Regions from separate parts of the Homo sapiens genome. Here regions 2, 3 and 4 are each linked to region 1. Evidence: fine-mapped expression QTL. A gene starts in region 1. Each other region holds a variant in brackets. All regions are shown on one strand. Distances are from middle to middle. Region 1 holds the start of SGCG (sarcoglycan gamma). Region 2 overlaps SGCG (sarcoglycan gamma). Region 3 holds the start of LOC124903134 (a long non-coding RNA gene). Region 4 overlaps LOC124903134 (a long non-coding RNA gene).

The links. PIP is the estimated chance that this variant, and not a neighbour inherited with it, causes the effect.
Region 2: its variant is the best candidate, but not a certain one, in a credible set for the expression of SGCG in tibial artery (GTEx, PIP 0.64).
Region 3: its variant is the best candidate, but not a certain one, in a credible set for the expression of SGCG in fibroblasts (GTEx, PIP 0.85).
Region 4: its variant is the best candidate, but not a certain one, in a credible set for the expression of SGCG in lung (TOPMed, PIP 0.64).

Annotation. Positions count from the first base shown.
Region 1 is chr13:23,179,686-23,182,185 of GRCh38, forward strand. It overlaps SGCG (sarcoglycan gamma), which reads left to right and starts at 1,294. Exons shown (of 8, transcript NM_000231.3): 1 at 1,294-1,390.
Region 2 is chr13:23,288,466-23,290,965 of GRCh38, forward strand. The region is part of intron 5 of SGCG (sarcoglycan gamma); the gene reads left to right. Among named protein-coding and RNA genes, the nearest start is that of SGCG, 110 kb to the left of the region's middle. The variant C/T (reference allele first, on the strand shown) is at 1,109.
Region 3 is chr13:23,157,940-23,160,660 of GRCh38, forward strand. It overlaps LOC124903134 (a long non-coding RNA gene), which reads right to left and starts at 1,737. Exons shown (of 2, transcript XR_007063719.1): 1 at 1,227-1,737. It also overlaps a transcript of SGCG not described here. The variant G/C (reference allele first, on the strand shown) is at 1,198.
Region 4 is chr13:23,149,577-23,152,346 of GRCh38, forward strand. All of the region lies in intron 1 of LOC124903134 (a long non-coding RNA gene), which reads right to left. Among named protein-coding and RNA genes, the nearest start is that of LINC00362, 20 kb to the right of the region's middle. The variant G/A (reference allele first, on the strand shown) is at 1,502.

The sequences.
Region 1 (2,500 bases):
CAAATGTAAGATTATTTGAAGCTGTATCAGCTTGTAATTTAAGGCCTGCAGCTGCTGGTATGATAGAAGTATCAAATTTCAAAAGAAATTATGGTAGAGTATAAATAAGCAGAATGAAGAGAAAAGTCTCCTGAGAAGAAAATAAAATGAGAATGAAGCATATGCATTGTTATTGCATTGCTCCTTTTTTTCTTCATTTTTTATTTCAGGTTCGAGGGGTACATGTGCAGGTTTGTTACACAGATAAATTGCATATCACCAGGATTTGATGTACAAATAATTTCATCGCCCAGGTAGTAAGCCCAGTACCCGATAGACAGTTTTCCGAACCCCACCTTTCTCCCTCCCTCCTTCCTCAAGCAGGCCCCAGTATCTGATTGTTCCCATCTCTGTGTGCATGTATACTAAGGCACTGCTTCTTATATTCAAGGTTTAGTACTAAAATGCAAATATGAAGTATATAATTTAGTAAGTTTTAATCCTGCTGCAAACCAGGTCACATAAAAATAATGCAAAATAAAATATTAAAATTATTCAGAAGTTCGATATTTATTCTGTTGTCTTTACACCTTATAAAATGGAATGACCTAATTACTCTTAAATAAACATAAAGACAATTTAAGGTCACATTTGTTACATTCACATAATTTGTTAAACACAATAGAAATGTTAGTTTACTAGAAAAGAACTGTCATAATTTTAACATGCAGAGTTTGTTTACCTTCTATTATGGTGATCTTTGTTTAAGATTTTCTCCTCAGATGTTAAAAGTTTTTCACTTAAAGAGGCTTAGGGAAAGTGATTTTTAAAGAGTCACTGTTACATGGTAATATGCCGTTCATTTGGATGAGACTAGTATATAGGTAATAGTCACAAGTTCTAACTTGCATGTTAATTTGAAGAGATTTTTCGTAAAATTTTATCAACATTAGTTTCTAATGGAAACCAGTCTTAGAAGTTTTCTGCTGTTTGTTTGAGGTAAAGTTTTTTTAAGAAAGTTATAATTACATTAAACTATCATGCTTTAGGGTTTAAATGTTGGAAAGTTGGTTTTGTAAGAAGAAGAGTTTGGTTTCTTGTTTGTTTGTTTGTTTTGGTTTGTTTTTGGCATGCGAAGAGCTGTGTCCTGGAATTGGTGCCCAAAAAATTTTAAGTGTGGTATGAACTGTTTATGTCACTGAGTAAAATTAGACACGTCTGTTGCTAATGTGAGGGGATGAAACATGAGACAGGGCGAAACTCGTGAGAGCCCTTTCTCCAGGGACAGTTGCTGAAGCTTCATCCTTTGCTCTCATTCTGTAAGTCATAGAAAAGTTTGAAACATTCTGTCTGTGGTAGAGCTCGGGCCAGCTGTAGTTCATTCGCCAGTGTGCTTTTCTTAATATCTAAGGTAAGTGCTCAGTTTTAACTTAGATTTTATATCAGTACAAAGTACTACCTAAAAACCAAACGCTTAAGAGGTTTCTTAATATTCTTTCTTCTTTGGTGGCATAATAATAAATTTAAAATAATGTTGAATAAATTGGTGTATCACAACATAATGACATATCAAGTATCAATGAAATTCTCATTTCAACTAAGTTATTCTGACTACAAATATGCTACATATTTTTAGCATAATCCTATATTTCTAACATTTTTAATTTGTAGAATGCCAAAGGTAGCATTTCTGTATTATTGGGCATTGAATTGGATCCTGTAGTTAATTTAAACAAAGTATTATCTTTAAGATCACCTACTTCTAATTCTGCTCTTAAACTTTAGTGGTAGAATTACATTTGCTTTAGATTTTCTTGATAGTTTTGTTATAGACACTAAGAAATAAACTAAAATGAATGACAACAAAAGTCCAGTGGTTTTATAAGTTGGAAATAAACAAAACAAGAGCAAAATAGCAACCTGACTCCTTCACTATTTTTGGAGTGAAAAGGGAAGAATGTTTCTTTCCCTAAATCTGGAAAATATAAAATACTGCTCAAAATATGTATGAAAAAATAAACATAAGTGGGGTAAAAGTACACATGTGCTAATGCTTCAGCTTACTGAAGTTATGAGTTCTTTCTTTGCGTTTTCTAAATTAATACATGACAACTAGCAAACACAATTTTTTTAAAGGAAGGATTAGAAAAAAATAATACGGAAAAATATAACTCAGCTGACTGAAAGATTTGCCAGCAGACCAGTACAAAAACGAACTACGGAATACACCGTTTGTTTTTTGCTTATTTTCTTGCAAACATTTTGTAGGTACAAAAAGGCACCTTTGTGGAATTTAAAAAGTAATGCTACAAGTTGGGGTTCGTTTTATAGGTTCTAGGATTCATTTCAGATTGTCTTTCAAAGACAAATGAAAAGTAGCATTTCAATGTAGTTAGATATAGCATTCCAAAGACTAACAAATTCAGGTGTCCAAAAGATATCAGCTAAGCTTGCAGTTAAAATGCGGAAAATGAAATTGTTCCATATTGTCCTTTAAAAAATGTACTTGCTAGTCATTAAA
Region 2 (2,500 bases), 110 kb after region 1:
TACTCAAATAAGCTAAAACCTCTCTTTAATTCTTAAACAGCTTCCATTTAGATTTTAGTCAACTAGGATACTGAATAATAGTTTTTAAGCGAAATTTATGGAAGCGATTAAACAATTTCAGCAGTTCAGTCTGAAACCAATTTAGGCCTTTAAGCAGGCTCATCTTCCTCCCCCACAAAATTAGACACCAAGTGGCCAAAGTTAACATTTCTTTTATTAACCCAAGTTACAGAACATACTATTGGAATAACATCAAAATGTTGTCTTCAAAAAACTATTCTACACCATTGCCAGAACTGACTTCTGGCAGATGACAAATTGTTAGTTTGGCTGCCCTAAGTGTATTTTAGCTCCCTGGCAACAATTTGCTAGGCTCAGTCCATTTCCCAATATTATCTTTAAAAACAGAGTTCTATAATAGTATCCATTTCCCACCACTAATAAGAAAAAATAAGATCTAGCAATAGTCCCAATTCCATTTCTTTATGCCTTCTGTGCAGCTAAGCAAGATCACATAAAGTCAAAAGTGATAGTGTAGAAATGCCAGAGTCACCCATAAAGCCAGTGACAAAAATGGACCTGGAGAACAAAGTGTTCAGCAACTGAAGAAGTGAAAATAAACAAGGATGTTAAGTCGAAAAAGACGTGAAGACAGATATCTGGAAGGTGCTTTTAGGAGTACCATATCCTTCAAACACATACCCAAGGGCACAGAACACTGTCTGATGCAGCACTGCACGCAGCGATCAACGCCGTGCTGCAGTCCATGGTATTTCAGCTGAAAGGAACAAGAGTCCCAATTAAAACAGGCTTAAACTGGAAGGACATGTATTATCTCACATAGGAAGGCTGGGGAAAGGGTAACTCCAGGTTGTTGATTAATTTAGTAGCCAAGTAATATTTTACGCTACCTTTCTTCTCTGCAAGTATGTTGATATTTCCCTTTTGGGTTGCAAAATGATTCCATCAATTGCAAACATCACTTGCCTCTGCAAAGACTTCTCTAAACATCTATCTATAAGAGGGCCTCAGTGATTTGGCATCTTAAGTTACTCTCCCAGCTGAAATTTTTCTCAGATTAAATTATTTGAATTTCTTTTGTATGTGG[C/T]GTTTGGCTGGATTTATTGTTTATAACATAATTTATTTTGAGTTTTAATGTGGAATTTAAAACTGACATTCATTGTGATAAGTTCTCTATTTGTCTTATCTGTGCCATATTATTTCATGATTTTTATTTTTTAATCTTACCAGGTTTGAATCTGAAAAAAGCCTGGTATAAAGGGAGATAGAGTGGGACCAGATTATGCAGGGATTTGCTGGCCATTTTAAGAATTTAGGATTTGTTTTAGTTCAATGGGGAGGCATTGAATTGTTTTGAACAGGGTACTCCTTGATTCATTATACATCTTAAGATCAATCCAACCATTACAAAGGAGGTTGGAGGAAAGAATGGAGGCAGTAAGACCAGTTAGGAGGATGTCAATTGTAGTACACGTAATCAGCGAAGGTGACCTGGATTGGGTGGTAGCAATGGTCAGAGAGGGAAGTGAATTACTCCAGTTTAAGATCTGACAGCTACAGACTTGCCTATGAATCGGGTGTATGGCAGGCAGCCAGGAGGAGACTCAAAGATGATATTTGTTTTGGTTGATGGCATTACTCTCTGGGTAACGGAGAGGCCTGAGGAGGAGGAGAATTCATTTGCAGGGCAGACAGCATCAACAGTTAATATTTTAGACACGTAAATTGAAGATAATCTGGGAAAACTGCCAAGTGCATGTCATGTCAGCTATTGGGCATGTGAGTTAGCTACTGCTCAGAGCAGAAGTCTAGACTAGAGATAAATGTGGGTGTCATCAACCAACTGAGCTCCAAAAAATGCCAACAGTAGAGGCCAAGTAAAGGCAGAGCAGCCACCAAAGGAGAATAAGGGACAGACAATGCGGTGGGAGGGATATTACGATAATCGTTTTTCTGGTGTCAAGAGAGACTATTTTCTCAGAATTTGGACCCAGGAGAGATGACAGAAATTGTCATTGGATTTATTATTACGGAAGTTATTGCTATCTTAAGGAGAGCATTTTTCATTGGAGTAATAAAGGCAAAAGGCAGGTTGAAGTGGTTACAAAGTGAATAGGACGGGAGGCAGTAGAGGCATTATGTGGTGACATTAAGCGGAAGTTTGGCTGAACGAGAGAAATGGAATTTTTTTGGCATCACTTGAAAAGACCGTATCAGTCCATAAATGCTCAATGAAGGTGTAGAATGAATCTTAACAAATAGTTATCAGTGTTGATACAAAAATGAATGCATGTCTGAGATATATATTACTGTCTGAACAGAAGTATTAATATTGAATTCAATGTATTTCTATAATTGAAGGAACCTAGAAACAGCAGTATGTTGCAAAGAATGGAACAACTTAGAGTTATTTGCCGTTCAGTTGCTGAGCTCTGTCCAAGAGCACCCTGATTGCTGGGCTCTGTACCATGATCTTTTC
Region 3 (2,721 bases), 22 kb before region 1:
TTCGGATATATTTAGCTTTTTATCACGGGACTCATAAGTTCTCTAGATCCCCACTGCGATCGTCATCACCAGCACAAACTGTTGCTAATAATTTATTTCTAAGCCAACAAAGGAGAAGTTCTGGCTCTGAGATCAGATTAGTTTTGGCAATTAAAACACATTAATAACTTTTGAATTCTTTGGCAGAAATATTAAACTGCAGCCTTTACTGATTAGTACGGACATTTTTAGAGTAATAATTCACAATATCTGTCATTTGCTGCCTGTGAAATATGTAGGAAATTATTAATATACCCTTAATAATATATCTCTATATCCATCTTGTTTATCCTTTGCTCCTTGAGGGGGATATTTTTAGAAAATGATTATCACTGTCTATCAACTATAAGAGAGAGAAGTAATTAGAGAAGTATTGCACTGGACACTTCTGGAAAATTGGCTTTTCTCGTTTCAATTTCTACCTTTGCAAAAGTTTGCTTTTAAAAAGTGTAATCTAGAAGTTGTAAACATTTCTGCCTTGCAGTTATCCATTCTGTTACATTAAAAACATTTTAAAACGGTCCAACATCTTTATGTTTCTACTTGGTCCCAAATATGGTACCAGATTTTTACTGTAAAAAATCATAAAATACACCAGCATGATCCTTTCGGGAATATATTTGAAAGTTTACCTCCTTAGCACACTCACCAAACATCTTCAGATACCCATACCATTCACACAAAGCTGGTAAAACCAAGATGCTCCCCCGTGATGCATGTGTACGGAGAATGTCAACGAATAAATAAGTGAGTTAAATACACAAGCACTAATTAGAAAACTGTATTGAGAGGTGAGCCCAGCTGGACTTCCTGGGTGAAGTGGGGACTTGAGGAACTTTCCTCTCTTACAAGAGGATTGTAAAACACACCAATCAGCCCTCTGTAAAACACACCAAGCAGCGCTCTGTAAAACACACCAATTGGCGCTCTGTAAAACGCATCAATCAGTAGGATTCTAAAAGTAGCCAATCATGGGGAGGATTGAAAAAAGGGCACTCTGGTAGGACAGAAAAGCAACATGGGGGCGGGGCAGGGGAGGGAGAGACAATAAGGGAATAAAAGTTGCCCCCCATGCTGGCTGGAGTCTCCTTTCACAGTGTGAAACGTTTGTTGTTTTGGTCTTCACAATAAACCTTGGTACCGCCAACTCTTTGGTCC[G/C]TGCCATCTAAAAGCGCTGTGACACTCACCGCGAAGGTCCCGGCTTTATTCCTGAGACCACGAACCCACCGGCAGGAACCAACTCCAGACTACTATGTGCTACAGAGAACTTCTTCAGGCCTTGAAAATAGAACATAGTAAAAAGCGGCTTCTTTGTCCATGGATCAGCAGTCACTATTTCCCAGCTCGCCTCCAAGAGCTAACTAAAGTGCAGCATAAACTGCATGCAGCATTGTTTTCACCACAGCAAACCCTTCGGGGTGCCTCCTAGCGGCGGATGGAGAACTAGCATTGCGCGAGAGTGAGTAAACTGTGATAAACCCAAGGGGTTTGCGGGGGACAGGCTGGGTGGCAAGACTTTTAAAGGCTCGCAAATGGAACCACTCCCTCCAGAGGGACTATCTAAATCTCCTCAGGTGCTGACCCTTTCTGACAGTAAAGGACGAGGGCCAGAAGTGTAAAGATTGTGGTCCCGCGCTCCAAGCCCAAGATGCGTTCAGCAGGAGTAGTTGGGTTGGAAAGAAGGCACCCAGCGTCTGCAGCGAAGGACTCGCGTGGGAGCGAGAAATGTCCCTGCCCAGTGCCCCGCGCGCTGGATCGCGGGGGCGAGTCTGAGGGTGGAGAGGCCGCCGGGTGGAGGCGCGCAGGGGTGCGTGGGTGGGTGCGGAAGGAGTGCAGGGTATGGAGGGGAATCTTGGGGCGGCGCGAAGGAGGAGCGCTTGGAAAGGCGCGGTGTTTGGTCACAGAGGGGCTCGGAGTGGGAGTGCAGGGGTGCGGGGAGGGAGTGCAGGGACGCGGGGAGGGAGTGGAGGGGTGGGGACGTGCTGGAGGGGCGCGCCTCGATAGAACTGGAGAAACTGGAAAAGTGGAGGGGCGGGGCAGTGGCTGGAGGAACCTCTGAAGCGACGCGGGGAATATGTGAAGGAGTGCTATGTTGGAACTTGGAGGGGAGGGGGGATGCTGGAGAGGCACACGGTGATGGACATGGAAGGACCCGGGAGGTGTGGAGTGGTGGGCCCGGCCCGTCGCGGGAAGGACACAGAGGGACATAGGCTGCCCTGGAGAGGCGCTTTCGGACATCTGGAGGGGCGCATAGTGCTGGGACTTGGCGGCGCCTGGGGCGGAGGGGCGCGCCGGATCCAGCCGGGCGCGCTCGGGGGCCGGGCGCAGTGGGAGTTGACGGGCGTCCAGCCGGCGGCGCCCTGGGCTCGGCTAGGCGCAGGACGGCCCTGGCAGCGGTGCAGCAGCCCAGGCTAGTTCCTGGGGGGTCCCTGGTCCCCGCCTCCCCGCGCGCCCCGGCCAGCACCGCCCGGAGTCCGGGCGGGGAAGTGGGCGCCCGCGGCTTGGGAAGCTGCTCCCCCGCCCTGGAGCAGAGTCGTCGCTGCGGTCGCTGAGGAAGGACGGAGCAGAGGCCCGCGCTGTCTGGGGAGAAGACTGTGGTGTCATCCCGTCGGGAATGAAGGGAAATGCAGCGGCTGTTTGCGCCCCGGGACTCCAAGAAGTACAGCAGGTAAAGAGAATAGC
Region 4 (2,770 bases), 30 kb before region 1:
AATAAGAAAAAAATGTACAGGTAAAAGCAGAATTGATGGCTTCCTGATCCTCTCTTTTCTGACTTCTGCAACTCACTGGAGCATGAGAGAAAAACAAAAGCTAATATTTTTATGTATATGCATTTTTCACAGCTTTACTGAAATATAATTCACATACCACACAAAATTCACCCATTTAAGGTACAGAATGAAAAAGGCTTTACTATATTCACAGTTATGCAGCAGGCACCAAACTCTCAACTTAGAACATTTTTATTAGCCCCTAATTGTCTATTTTTCATATTATGTCTATTAATTATACTATCTGATCTTTTGTCGTTGACTCCTTTCACCTAGTATAATGTTTTCAAAGTTCATCCATATTGTATTATGTGTCAGTAATTCATTCCTTTTATTGCTGAATAATATTCCATTGTATGGATATATCATGTTTTATTTATTCCTTCATCAGTTGATGTACATTTGGATTATTTCCCCATTTTTGCTGTTATGAATACTTCTAGTGTGCACATTTGTATGCAAGTTTTTTTATGGATTTGTTTTTATTTTTCTTGAATAGATAAATAGAAGAAAATTTCTGGGTCGTCTGACAAGGCTATGTTTAATGTTTTGAAGCACTCCCAAATTGTTTTCCAAAATGGTTGCAACATTTTACATTCCCTCCAGCAATATATGAGTGTTCCAATTTCTTCACATCCTCGCAAATTTGTGATTATTTGTCTTTTTTACTATAGCATTTCTAGAGGCTGGAAGTGGTATCTTATTGTGGTTTTGATTCGTGTTTTCTAAATGGCTAATGCTTCAAGTATCCTTTCCTATGTATATCTTTTTTGGAGAAATGTTCATTTTCAGTTAGCTCATCCTTTTATTGAGCTCCTTATCAGATATAGAATTTGCAAATCTTTTGTACCATTTTCATGTTTTCTTTGGCTTTCTTGATGGTATAATTTGCTGCAGAAACATTTTTTATTTTGATGAGGCCTAATTTGTTTTTTCATTTGTTACTACTGAGTTTGATGTGCATAACAAGCTTTTGCTGGGCTCAAGTTCATAAAAATTTATGTTCTCTTCTGAGAGTTTTTAGTTTTAGCTCTTACATTGAGGCATATGATACATTTTTAGTTAAATTTTGTGTATGGTAGGAAGAAGGAGCCCAACTTTATTCTTTTGTGTGTGAATATTCGGTTGTTTTATAAACATATGTTGATAAAACAATTCTTTTCCCATTGAATGCTCAATTAACTACAAATGTGAGAGTTTATTTATGAACTCAGTTCTGTTCCATTGATGTATATGTCTTATGCTAGTACCATATAGGTTTGTAGTAAGTTGCTAAATCAGAAATCATGAGGCCTCAACATTGTTCTTCTTTTTCCATATTACTTTCTCTGTTTTGGTAATCTTGCATTCCTATATGACTTTTGATACTAGCTTGTCCATTCTTTTGAAGCTAATGAACTTTATTTTTTATTGACATATAATAATTGTACATATGCATGGG[G/A]TACAGTGTGATGTCTGCATACATGTATACACTGTATAATCAAATCATGTTCATTAGCATATTTATCAACTTAAATATTTATCATTGCTTTGTCATGAGAACATTCACGACAAAATCTTCTCTTTTAGATATGTGAAATATACAATGCATTATAGTTAGCTATAGTCACTCTACTGTGCAAAAGAGCAGCAGTACTTATTTCTCCTGTCTAACTGTAACAGTTCACCTGTTGACCACCTTCTCCCCTTCTCCCCATTCTCATTATTCTCCTCAGTCTCTGGTAACCACTGTTCTACTCTCAACTTGTATCAGTTAATTTTTTTAGATTCCACATATGGGTGATATCTTATAGTATATATGTGTCTCTGTGCTTGGCTTATTTCACTTAACAAAATGTCCTCCAGGCTCATCCGTATTGTCACAAATGACAGGATTTCATCCTTTTCTGTGGGTGAATACTGTTTCATTGCATATAATAATCTCTTTATCCATTCATCTGTTGATGAGCATTTGGCTTGATTCCATAATCTGGCTATTGTGAATACTAATGCAACAAACATGACAGTGCAGATGTCCCTCTTCGACATATTGATTTCATTTCTTTCAGACATAAGCCCAGTAGTGGGATTGCTAGATCATACGCATATTAGTCCATTCTCATGCTGCTAATAAATACATACCAGAGACTGGGTAATTTATAAAGGAAAGAGGTTTAATTGACTCACAGTTCAGCATGGCTGGGGAGACCTCAGTAAACTTACAATCATGGTGGAAGAAGAAGCAAACACATCCTTCTTCATGTGGCAGCAGCAAGGTGAAGTGCCAAACAAAAGGGGGAAAAGCCCTTTATAAAACCATCAGATCCAGTGAGGACTCACTATCACAAGAACAGCAGCATGGGTGTAACCGCCTTCAAGATTCAATTACCTCCCGTTGGGTCCCTCCCAAGACACGTGGAGATTATGGGAACTACAATTCAAGATGAGATTTGGGTGGGGACACAGCCAAACTATGTCAATATAATTTGCCTTTCTTGGATGTTTAGCGAGGTTGAGCATTTTTTCATATGCTTCTTGGCTGTACATTGATTTTTCTATCTATATGATCTGTCCTTTGCTGAAATTAGGGTGTTGAAGTGCCCTACTATTATTTTATTGCTCTCTATTGCTCCCTTTAGATCTACTAATATTTGTTTCTTTGGGAAAAAAAAAAGCAGTTTTTCACCATTAAGTATGATGTGATGTTAGCTATAGGTTTTTTATAAATGCC